Homo sapiens: one gene and its partner. The protein of the gene in region 2 purifies or fractionates together with the protein of the main gene of each other region. This does not show direct contact. Each region holds a gene or a part of one and is shown on either strand. Other genes may lie near its edges.

Evidence for each region.
Region 1: the proteins of ISOC1 (region 2) and ARHGAP8 purify together in Homo sapiens (affinity purification with mass spectrometry; 2 studies listed by BioGRID and IntAct, with this or other methods). This does not show direct contact.

What each region holds. Positions count from the first base shown.
Region 1 is NC_000022.11:44,859,932-44,863,949, reverse strand, and holds the end of ARHGAP8 (rho GTPase-activating protein 8), read right to left. Parts: intron 1,676-4,018; coding exon 1,355-1,675; 3' UTR 1,166-1,354; downstream 1-1,165. Other genes in the region: PRR5-ARHGAP8 fusion protein, read right to left, coding at 1,355-1,675.
Region 2 is NC_000005.10:129,097,627-129,105,934, reverse strand, and holds part of ISOC1 (isochorismatase domain-containing protein 1), read right to left. Parts: intron 8,248-8,308; exon of another isoform or gene 8,169-8,247; intron 980-8,168; coding exon 860-979; intron 751-859; coding exon 547-750; intron 1-546.

The DNA.
Region 1 (4,018 bases), on a different chromosome or scaffold from region 2:
AGGGCGTGGGGGGTCGCTCAGCAGCCACACGAGCCCCTCCCTTAAGGACAGCGAGCACCAGCAGGGTAGAACACACACAGCGGCAGATGAGGGGCAGGGGAATAATGGGAAGACACACAAGTGAAGAGGGAGGCCAGCGAGGAGACCGCACCCTCTAAGTTTCAGAGGAGAGCCCTGGGTGTGGGTTTGGCCTGGGGCTGCCAGTGATTCCCCCAAGCATCCTAACGCGTACCGGGGGTCCCGGCACAACTCGGTCAACACCCCAAGCAGGCACGGAGGGGCCACCATGGGGGATCTGTAGAGGGGACTTTTGTCCTTTGCTCCCCAGAACCTCCCCCGCTTCTCCCTGCATCAAGAGCTGGGGAGACGGCAGCGTGGGACTCGTGGGTAATCCCCTGCAGCGGCCTGCCACTCCTCCCCCACTGCCTGGTCTGGGTGGGGCACAAGACTCAGGCCTAAGCCAATCAGAGCCTTCCCTGGCTGCAGCAATGGGTCTAAGGTGAGCATGTGACCTAGGCTTGTCCAATCAGGGTGAACCTGGGGCTTTTTTGCTGGGACTGTGGCACTAAGAAGTTGTATCCTTCTCTACCATATCTGATGGAAATACAGGGCCCGTTTTGCCAGCCCAAGAGTCAGCCTGCCTGAGACTGCAGAGTCCTGTCGCACCCCAGAGCCCTCGGGCAGCTTGGCTGCTTTATGCCCAATTCTTCACCCTCCCCATATCCACCCCCTTTGCAGGGCCCTCCCTCTGTGACCCTGGCCTTGGCCACCAGGCTTGCTTTGGCCAATGAGATGTGAGCATACAGGACGCCAGTCAAAGCATGAAAACTGCTTGCAATAGCGCTTGTGTGTGCACCTGGACCTATGTTGTAAGAATGTGCCCCGTTTGGCCATTGGAAGGACTTGGGACACCTGGGGGAGAACAGAGTCACCCCAGCTGCCAGCCAGCTCAGCCAGGACATGTAAGTGACCCCCTCAAAAGACCAATAGAACCACCCAGCTGACCCACTGACTCCTGGGCAGTAACTTTCAGTGACTGGGCTTAGGTGGTGTGTTACACAGCAGTGTGGCAGCAGCAGGACCTGGCAGCCGTTAGCCACTCCATTCCTGTTTTCAGTTAAACCACATTGGGTTGGGATTCAAAACATCCATCCTAACAAATGCATTATTCTATCCCGGTCCACAGCTCAGGAACCATGGACAAGAGTCCAAGGACCAGAGGCATGGAGTTTTCATTAGAAGGTTCTGAATTCATCTAATGGCTGGTTATTTTTACAGATGCCAAGTTTACAAAACATACAAGTGCACAGACAGGTGTGGGAGGTAGCTCGAAATATACAGAGTGTTCGCAACACTAGAGACGTCTTCTGGCTGCCATCAGGGGACTCGGAGGTAGGGTAGGCTTGGTGAGGCCCGTGGCTTGTGTCCGTGGCACAGCCTCCTGCAAAGGGGCTGCCCTGCTCCCCTGTTCCCATGGTGCCAGGCCGTGCTCCCCAGGTGCCTCCGGGGTGCTGAAGATCTTTTCATAGTACTCGATCAGCAGTTCAGTGAACATGTTCAGGGGCACAAGGGCACTCAGGGAGGAGACCCCCTGGGATGGCCAGATCAAATTCAGCCCGAAGACACAGGCCAGGTTAGAGCTGTTCATTTTGTTGAAGATGCTCTCCCGGGACACCTGGAGGAAACCACACACAAGTAAAGGGGAGTGAACACCAAGGGGCACGGGCACCTGGAACTCCCTCCCGAACTTAGGGAGAGGCGTAGGTGTAGTGAGAGGAGCACTGGACTGGGAGCCGGCAGCCAGTAATGGGGACCCTGTGCAGCCACCTGCCCACTCAGGGCCTTAGTTACCCTATCTCTAAAAGGAAGGCTTGGCCTCCATGTCCTGGAGGACCCTCTGGCTCTGACCTTCTGTGACAGCCTCAACCCCCCACTATCTCCTCTTCCACTGCACCTTCTGGGGAGATGCAATCTTGGGGATGGGCTGTAGCACAGACGGTACGAACTTGGTGACCTCTCTGGCCTCGGCTCTGTGAGTGGCGAACTGGGCATGATGGGGACCAGCCAGCACATCTAGGGGCCACTACGAGGGGCAGGGAGAGTGGAAAGAGCTTGCCTGCTAGAAGGGGCTCCTTGTCCATCTCCGCCAACACGTGCAACCCCAGCACGGGGGAGTCATTACTCCCCATCTTACAGATGAGGAATCTGGGGCCTGGAAGGTACAGGAGACTTGCCCAAGGTCATGTGGCCAGCCAGTGGCAGGGGGCCATGTGGACCAACGTGAGGGCAGGGCCTGTTCTCTGCTCCTTGCCTCCCTACAAGATTCAAGCTGGGGGGAACCTCAGTCAGAAACAGGGGTCATGAGGCGGTGAGTACCAGGGCAGAGCAGAGAACTGGAGGGAGGCAGGGCCAGGCACCACCCTCACAGATCTGTTGAGGATGCTCAGGTGAGATGGCTGGATGCCTTTCAGGCTCCCCCTGGCTGCCGGTCCCCCAAGCCCGTTGCAGGTGTGCACCAGCCAGGCCCACTGCAGGCCACCCCTCCTCAAGCCGAGGCCCCCAGGTGCCACTGGGGTGATAACACGCAACACCACACCCCACCAGGTGCATTCACATCGGTGCCCATGGAGGTGGCGGCTAGAGAGAGAAATCAGTCTCTCCTAATGAAAAAGAAGTAGGCTGGGTGCAGTGGCTCACACCTGTAATCCCAGCACTCTTAAGAGGCCGAGGCAGGTGGATCACCTGAGGTCAGGAGTTCAAGATCAGCCTGGCCAATGTGACGAAACCCCATCTCTACTAAAAAAACAAAAATTAGCCGGGCATGGTGGTTCTCACCTGTAATCCCAGCTACGTGGGAGGCTGGGGTTGCAGTGAGCTGAGATTGCACCAGTGCACACCAGCTAGGGCAACAGAGCAAGACTGTCTCAAAAAATTTTTTTGAGAGAATTAGGAGAGTTTAGTTTTGGGCCTCTGAGAAATTATGTCAAGCAACAGGGAGAAAAAAAATTGTTGTAAAACCAAGAAGTGACATTCTCCAACAGACTCTGGGATGTGACGCCTACTCTGCTCAGGCTCTCCTCACCCTGCACAGCCTGGGGCGAAGGCCTGGAGAGATGGAGGGGGTTAAACATTCAAGGCCGTGGGTCTGGGGGTTGGGGGTGGACCCACGTGGATGTGTTGAACCTTCCCCTGTTGGCTGCACAGGTTTTTGCTCCAAATGGATCCCTGCCCCAGGGGGAGAGCACACTAAGCCCAGGCCCAGAGCACTGAAGGGTTTCTCTCTCTCTGGTCATTTGCTTAGCCTGGTGTGTAGTAGATTGAATGGTGGCCCCTCTAAGATAGACCACAGAGAATCTGACTGTGACCTTATTTGGAACGAGGGCCGTTGCAGCTGTCGTTGAGGATCTCAAGATGAGATCATCCCGCGTCATCTGGGTGGGTCCTAAACCCAGTGACATATGGCAGGGGGTCCACACTTAGGAGGGAAAGGTGGAGGGAGATTAGACACACACACAGACAAAGGCCAGGGGGGAGCTGGAGGCATAGCTGGAGTGACCAGGAGCTGGGAGAGGCCAGGAAGGGGAACCTTCCCTAGAGCCTCTGGAAGGAGCACAGCCCGCCACACCTTGCTTTTGGACTGCTAGCCTCTAGAAGAGTGACACAGTAAATCTGTTTTAAGGCACCCACGATGCAGTCACAGGAACTTAATGTACGTGGTTCTGGGTGTATCCCTTCCCCAGGAATGGTCAGCTCAGTCCACTGGGCTCTGTACCAGTGGTGGACACAGCTCCCACCTCCTAGAGACTCAGCCCAAGCAGGAAATGACATGGGGGCAGAGGACCCCAATAACAAAAGTCACTGGCAATGGCTGAGGGACAGCAGGTACAGGAGCAGGCAGGGGCAGGTACGCCCTGTCTGACAGGCAGGAGGTCCGCAGCAGCATGGGTGCCTGACCAGGCCTTGGATGAGGTCCTTGGGGGGCAGGGAGTGGTATTCCGAGGCCCAAGCAGGGCATGAC
Region 2 (8,308 bases):
TTTTAAAATTTTAGTTTAATAGTTGTTTAAAAGCTAGGAATAAATCAATTGAAATCAGCAATAGGAATCCATTAGTATTTTTCCCCTGTAAAAAGATACATACATGATTTGAAGGACAATGAACTACATGACCTCCAAGGTTCTTCTAGCACAAAAATATGACCTAACTGAAATCCTACAACACATACATTAAAATAATGCCTTTGGTGAAAATGTATTCCAAAAGTAGTAGTTAAAAATACAGGACCAAGAATCAATCAGCTTACATACATTCAAGTCAGTTACACAACATCTCGGTATTTTAGTATCCTCTTTAATATGGGGAGACTACTGAGTATTTAGCTCTTACTTGGCTTAAGGGACTTAATAAATAAACAGCTATAAAATGTTCAGATCAGTGCCATGCAAATAGTGAACATAATACATGGTGGCTACCTTTCCTCATTATTACTGCCTACCTGGCATACCATATATGAAATTACATTCCACAAATATTGAGTTTTCTATAAATAATATTGTGCCTAAATGATAGTAACAGGTACTTACTTCTACTCCAAATAATACAACACTCCTGACTCCGGGAATCTCTGCTAATGCCGCTTCTACTTCTGGTAATACCATTGAAAACTTGGTCTTTGGAAGTACCAGTTTTACACCTGTTAAATCAATTTCTTGAACCGTGCTCCCAAGACCTTTAGGGTATTGTTCTGTTACAATAACAGGAATTCCTAAAATCCGGGCCCCTTGCAACTGAAAAAAAATAACCAAACACAAAAACAATTAGCTATATACATATATGTGTATATATGAGTGTATATGATGATTCAGCAAATATGACCAAATAAGTAAACAAGCATACCAATCTCTGTCCCACGCTAATAATATCCCCAAAATACTTGATGGCTGGTCTGAACCTTTCCTGCATATCACAGCAGAAAAACACAGTGCTTGAAGGTGTAAGATTTCCCAGGGTAGTGAGCTGAGGAAAAAAGAAAAAGAATGATTTAGCACTTGTTGTACAATGACATTTATTTTCAGTGGAGGTCAATAAAGGAAGAAAAATGGTCCTATTGTTTGAGCCAGTAAGTCAATTTCTACCGCTATTATCCAAAAAAAGTATCTGAATTACAGGAAAAAAAAAAACTCAAAAAGATGTTCTCTGAATTGCTTTTAATAGCGGAAATTAGAAATGAACCAGCCAACAATACAGATATGATATAACACATTTTAACACATTCACATGACAAAACATTTTTTAGCCAATTAAAAAACATATGTATATGTCTTCAAAGAATTCATACCATCCATGGAAAAATACTCATAATGTTAATTTTTAAAAAGTGCAGTTCAATAGTATTTCAATAATGTAAAAATATGAATAAAAGTAGTAGTACATTACAATATTAACAAGTGGTTATATAATTGGGGTGTTGGTAATTTCTTTTTTTATACCATTCCTATATTTTCCAAGTGTTATTTAAACACATTTCCTGAATGTTATTTAAAGAAATTTCTTTATAATCAGAAAAAGTGTTACAATAGAAAAAAAATCTGATGTTGCTGCTTGTAAGTATAAAAAGTAAAACTTAAAATATCTGTAGCAGGAACATAAAAACTAAAAACAAAAAACAGACAGAAGCAAATCCAGAATTACTGCTATCATCAAGACAGAAATATGAAAATGCTATTCTCAAGAATAATTTTTAGAGTTCAAACAAAATGCAACGAAATGATACCAAGCACACCACTGCTGTTAAATGAACTGTCGTTTACTTCACAAGGAAGAGACCTATATTTGACATCTCCATTCTTAAACTATAGTTATCACGATAAGGAAAGTCAATGAATTAAGATGAAAAGTGGATATTAGATTACCAAACCTCATATTAGCTGCTGTAGTTGGTCTATAACAATTTGGGCCCAATATGGATCCACCAAAAAGCAAAAATCACCATTAAATATGAGAATTTACTCTCACTGGATTCTTAAAAGTCTGAGGTGCTTTTCTTTCTTTTGCAAATTGCAGGAAGTACTGTAAAGGATGTGTTCTGGTCCTGAATGAACCATTATCAATACCCTTACTAGCCGCTCCCTTAAATCATCCCTCTAATTATCCTACTTTGTTTCCCCTAAAACCACCTACAGATAACTATTATTAATAATATTCTAAAGGAGTCTGTGTCTGGATTACATGGTGTGGCTTCACCACCAACACAGCCTTAGACTCTCCTTAGTATCTCTGCAGGGGTTGACTCTCTGGAAACAATTACTACATGAATTAAATTAACCATTAAGAAATCTTTAATCCTTAATGATATAACTGTTCTAATTGGTTTGCACTTTGTTTTATCTATGTCCTGGTCTGAAGTACCCTGGCACTTTAATCTCCCTCTGGTACTGACTCTATAGATGTGTATTAACTAGCTATGCACAATCCAATACCAAATTCATGTTAGAATGTGAGAGCCATCTGTAATTCTTACTCTATGTATAGGGTTTTCCTACTTTTCCAATAAAGCATGATTAAAATAAATTCTCAAGCATATTATATGTTCTAGCTTTGGCTGTTTCTTTGCTTAATTTTAAATGCAAGTATTATGCCTCTGCTTTGGTCATTTTCAAAAGCAGTGACTAGGATCTTATATACAAATATAAATGCATTGCTGGGAAGGCTAATTTTTGTGCATTTAGGATACTATTTTAAAAACCAATCACTAAATTCTCTGTAAACATCAAATATTGACTCAAAAGGCTCAATATCTACATTTTTATAAATTTGAATCATGGACTCGTAGGCATCCACAATGTGTTTAGGGCACACTACATAAAGCAGTTTGCCTGCAGCAGGCCTACTGAAATAACCATAATGCAAGTAAGCCAGTCTCACCGTTTCACAACAGGTGAGAACCAGCAAAAACAAAAAAAAATTTGAAAAATAAAATTCCTGGGCAGTTGCGTAAATGTGGTGGAGGCCATTCACTAACATGCTTAGAGCTTACACTTGCTTAGAATTCCAGCTCTCAGATCCTATTTTATACTGTATTGACTACCTCTGTATACATTCCTAACAAGTTTCATTGTCTGGATTCTAAATTAACAGAAGGCTATAAACAGCAAATCAGAAAGGAAACTGCTGGAGGCAGGCAAACTGATAGCAGCAAGAAATGATGGCTGACAGAGAAAAGATTCAAAATACAATAAAAACAGATCAAAACTCAAATAATGCTACAGTCTAGACCTCCAGTGGAAGAGTAAAAAGCTGTTCTAACTTATAAATTAGGAAAACATCATTCCAGCACACTCATTAAGAAAACTGTTAAATTATATATTTCAGAAGGACTACATTATAAAATGGTCAAGATATTTTTAAGTTGAGGTGTTTAAAAGAATAAATCCTTACCTACCCAGGAATCCTAATATCCAGAGTTGTGGTCTCCAGTTCTTGCTAGCTGGTGTTTCCTGCCCTTCATTTTAGCTATGGGTTCTGGACAGGGGACTGCATCAGATGTGTCATATTAGACACACATTGAGGAGGTCAAAAATACAGCCCTAAAATCCTCACTGCCCTGGGAAATCTCTCTAGTATAGGAACTTACCATCCACAAACTCAGTAAACAAAGAAACCATAGAGAATACAGTGGCAAGGCATGTTTTTAAAGCAGAGTACAGGTTACAATTTACTGAATAAAAAATACCCTACCTTTCATAGACATTCTCCACATGCTGTTGAATATGATGTGGAGAGTATCTATGTAAGGTGTTTAACTCCCAACATCCTCTTGAATGTGGCTGCACTTAGTACTCTGCTTCTTATGAGGAGAGTATAGAGGGGGAAGAGTAACTTTACAATGGAGAGACCTGACGACTGTGTCTCAGCCAGGTGATCAAGATTAATGTCATTAATGACATCATGTTAATAACATGTACCTTTGATATGATGTAATGAGAATGACCCTTGTGACCTTCCTCTTGAAATTTCACAACCCCGATCCAACAATGAGAAAAACATCAAATGAATCAAAATTGAGGGACATTCTACCAAAATATCTGACCAGTGCTCCTCAAAACTGTCAAGGTCATTAAAAACAAAGTTGAGAAACTGCTATAGACTAGAGGAGCCAAAGGAGACAAGACAACAAAATGTAATTGGTATCCTAGTTTGGATTTTGGAACAGAAAAAGGACATTAGGGAAAAGCTAGTGAAATATGAATAAAGTGTGGTTTAGTTAATAGTAACGTACCAATGTTGGTTCTTTGGTTGTGACAAATGTACTGCAGGAATATCAAATGTTAATGTTAGGGAATCCAGCTGGGCATGGTGGCTCATGCTGGTAATCCCAGCACTTCGGAGGCCAAGGTGGGAGGATCACTTAAGCCCAGGATTGCAAGAGCAGCCTAGGCAACACAGTGAGACCTTGTCTCTACAAAACATATTTTTTTGAGACAGAGTCTCACTCTGTCGCCCAGGCTGGAGTGCAGTGGCGTGATCTCGACTCATTGCAACCTCCACCTTCTGGTTCAAGCGATTCTTGTGCCTCAGCCTCCCAAGTAGCCGGGATTACAGGCGTGCACCACTGCACCCGGCTAATTTTGGTACTGCTAATAGAGATGGGGTTTCACCATGTTGCCCAGGCTGGTCTTGAATTCCTGGGCTCAAGGGATCTGCCTGCCTTGGCCTCCCAAAGTGCTGGGATTACAGGTGTGAACCACTACACCCAACCCAACCATATATATATATATATTTTTTTTTTTTTTTTTTTTTTTTTTTTTTTTGATTAGCTGAGCTTGGTGGCCCAGCTCCTCAGGAGGCTGAGGTGGGAAGATCCTCTGAGAACGGGAGGTCGAGGCTACAGTCCAGCCTGGGCAACAGAGCAAGACCCTGTCTCACAAACAAACAAACAAACAAACAAACAAAAACAATAGGGAATCTGGGTACAGGAATATAGGAACTCTCTGTACTATCTTTACAACTTTATTGTAAATCTAAAGCTATTCTAAAATAAAAAGTTAGTTTTTTTTTTTTAATGGCCTCCCTATGCTATGATATTTGGGGGAATAACGTCTATACCTTACAAACAGAAAGGAACTTTTGTGGCTACCAAAAACATACTGAAAAACTTTAATCATGTCCAACCAATCCTCCCAAATCCTCACCCCAAATCCACATGAATTCCAACAGGCTGTTAAAATCATACAACTCTCTAAATTTCGGAAATTTCTTACTTTGACTCATGAAGTTCTCTTAAACCAAAATCTTTAAGGTAATTAAAAAATATCGCCAGTAGCCAAACATTTACATGTTGCAACTGTAAGACAGCCAGTCCTGCCTCAGCAAATTAAAAGTGGACTGGACCAAATGTCACCAGGAGTAAAAGCATAGCAATTACAGATCTATGCATATTTAAGGAATATAAACAAATCACATATAAATATATGTATCCACACACCTTCGTATATCTATATGCCTACACATAGTCCTACACACACATTTGCACATGATACATATACAAATATATATATATTTAAATATAAAAAGTTGATCATAGCCAATGGCTTCCTCAAGCAAGAGTTTAAGAGATCAGATTCAAGTATAAATATTTTGTCTACTTTCTTAAGAATTGTCATAGCTGGGATTTGACCTTAGATTTCATACTCAAAAGACTTTTCACATCACCCAGCCCATAGCAAATTACTATAGGGATTTGGAATAATTAAAATTTGAAACTGTAAATGCGATGTTTAAAAAATTTGGTAGTCAATTAGAGTCACAAAATAGGCATGATCTGTTTGGGAGAAAGTCTGGAAGGGGACCTGGGGCATCGTTATTTCACTCCCAAGTGTTTCTGAGGAAATCCGATGACCACAGCTATAGTAAGGCCTGGCTCCAATGTCAACTCACTTACAACAGAGGTCTGTGATGTGACTCCCCCAGGTTACAAAGATCCCCTTTATAGCACAAGCCTCAGTAGGCATTAGAATCTGAGTGCAAATCTCAATTTCACTAATTTCGATTACATGAACTTAGGTAAATATCTCCATATGCAATTTCCTTATCTGTAACACAGCAAGAAAAATAGTATCTACATCATAGGGGTATTTCAAGGATTAAATGGGCTTCATATAATCAATCAATAAATGTATTAGGCTATTCTGATGTCCCTCATATATTAAACACTACACTCTAAAACTTAGCATATGTTAAAAAACTTACCCTCTAATGAGGATAAATATTTACAATTAAGATCCCTTTAGAAACCTATAAATATATTTATAGGAATGCTAACATTGCATAACTTGTTATGTTAACATAATATGCAGAATAAGGAAAGTGAATCATAAAGTGATTTATAAAGTAGATTTCCAGATGTTACCAAGACCTTACCAAATCACTAAGACAAGATTGTTCCTGGAAAAACAGATCAGGGACTTTTTAATTTAGGCTGTGAAATAATACTTATTGGCTCTTATTTTTACAACATATTCACCTATTGTGAACATTGATGTCACTGGCATAAGGTTACAACCCTAGCTTATCAGTTAAGGTATGAGTTTTCTAAATCCCCAAGGGACGCCAGCTGTCTCCACCCACCCCAGGGGTGAGGACTGAAGGATTTCTTAAGACTGTGCCTCAGACTGGGGTGAAGGTGAAGCTAGACAAGCCCAGGACCACAATGACATTTGAATCTACATTGGGATTCCCTTGGTTAGCTAAATGCAAGAAAAAAAATTCAAAATTCAGATCATAGCTCCTACTCTCAAACACAGTTTATTTATAGGTAGCTCTAATGTATTCAGAAGGAGCAAAAAAGGATACAATGCTTTAGGTATTATTCTGGAATGTTAATTTTTTTTTAAGTGACACACATCAAACCAATGGGGTAGAGACAATACAACCACCTCAGGATCCAGCTGTCTCCTCTCTGAGCATTAGCTCATCTACCCCCTCTTCCTGCCACGCTCCTGAGGCAAAGGTTTTGTAATCAAAAACCACTACCTTCAAACTATCAAGCCAAAGGCGAACAAGGTTCCTTTCCTCCTGCCTTCCCTCCCTTCCCACCATGAACCTGTCAGTCTCTTCTAGCTATAAAATGTTCATGCCCCTGTTTAAAATAATAATAATAGTAATAAACTTCCAAGAAAATGAAAGCTGGAGCAAAATGCCCTGCCAGTTAACCATCTTGGGAAAAGGTCAAAATAACCTTCCCTGGAACGCCCTTATCTTCTGGCCACAGAAAGCTGCCAAAGCCTTCCCTGCTATGTACAGAAGTAAAATCCCCTCACTGGCATCCTTCTTACACTGTCCATTTCCTCCTCTCTTCTCTGCAGGCTCTGTCTTTCCTGGCCACAGGCTGGAAAATGCACTGGTGGTAGCATGATACAACATTTATGTAAATTTCCATAGTTAAATGTTTCCTTTACCTAAAACTTACAAAATACCTTTTGAAAAATTAAAACTTTTAAGTCATAAAAATGACGTAAATCCCCACTACATAATCCTCTCATTTATATTCTTTCCCGTGTCTCAAAATTCATCAGATCTCAAGCATTTGGCAAAGCTGCAGACATACAAACCAAGCATGAAACATGAGCTATGCCTTCATCTACCTGAGCTGTCGGCAGACATTGTTACTTTGACAGAATATTTAAGAAAAGAAGTCACCAAAAACTTACCACAGCCTAATACTGGCAATGGGGGGTCTTAAAGATCAGTTCTCATAGAACCACTAACAAGCACGGGTGCAGTGTGGCAAAGGCAGCCACTGTGTTTCACAAGGTCATCAGCCACAGCTGTCAGAATAAGCACGAAGGCAACTCATACCACGGCGCAAATGAAGAATACATTCTAGACTAACAGTACGTGAGCCAGGGCCACAGAGGCTCCAGGGCCCAAGTGTGGAGAAATAATAAATCACTATTTACGCAATGAACTACATGTGGCCAAACTTGTGCTCTTTGTCCCTGCCTTCAAGAAGGGGCCAACCATCCCCAGTAACATGGACTCACCGATAGGCCACCTTGAGTCTTCCTAAGTGACAAGCATTTATTCCAAAGAACAAGGAGCAGCACCAAGACAAATGAACAAACAAGAGCTCAAGTTTGTGACTTGTTTTCCAGACTGCTCAATTCTCATTAAACATGCAAGCAGTAGTGCTGTGTTCGGCTGTAAGTGACGCTCTGCATATGCCTGGCTAGCTCCTCCACACGCATTTGTGGAGGAGCTAGCCAGGCATATGCGGAGACTTGCCATGTAACCTGCAGCAAGTTACTCACCTCCACCTCCCTATGTTCTTCTGCACTTCCTCAAAGT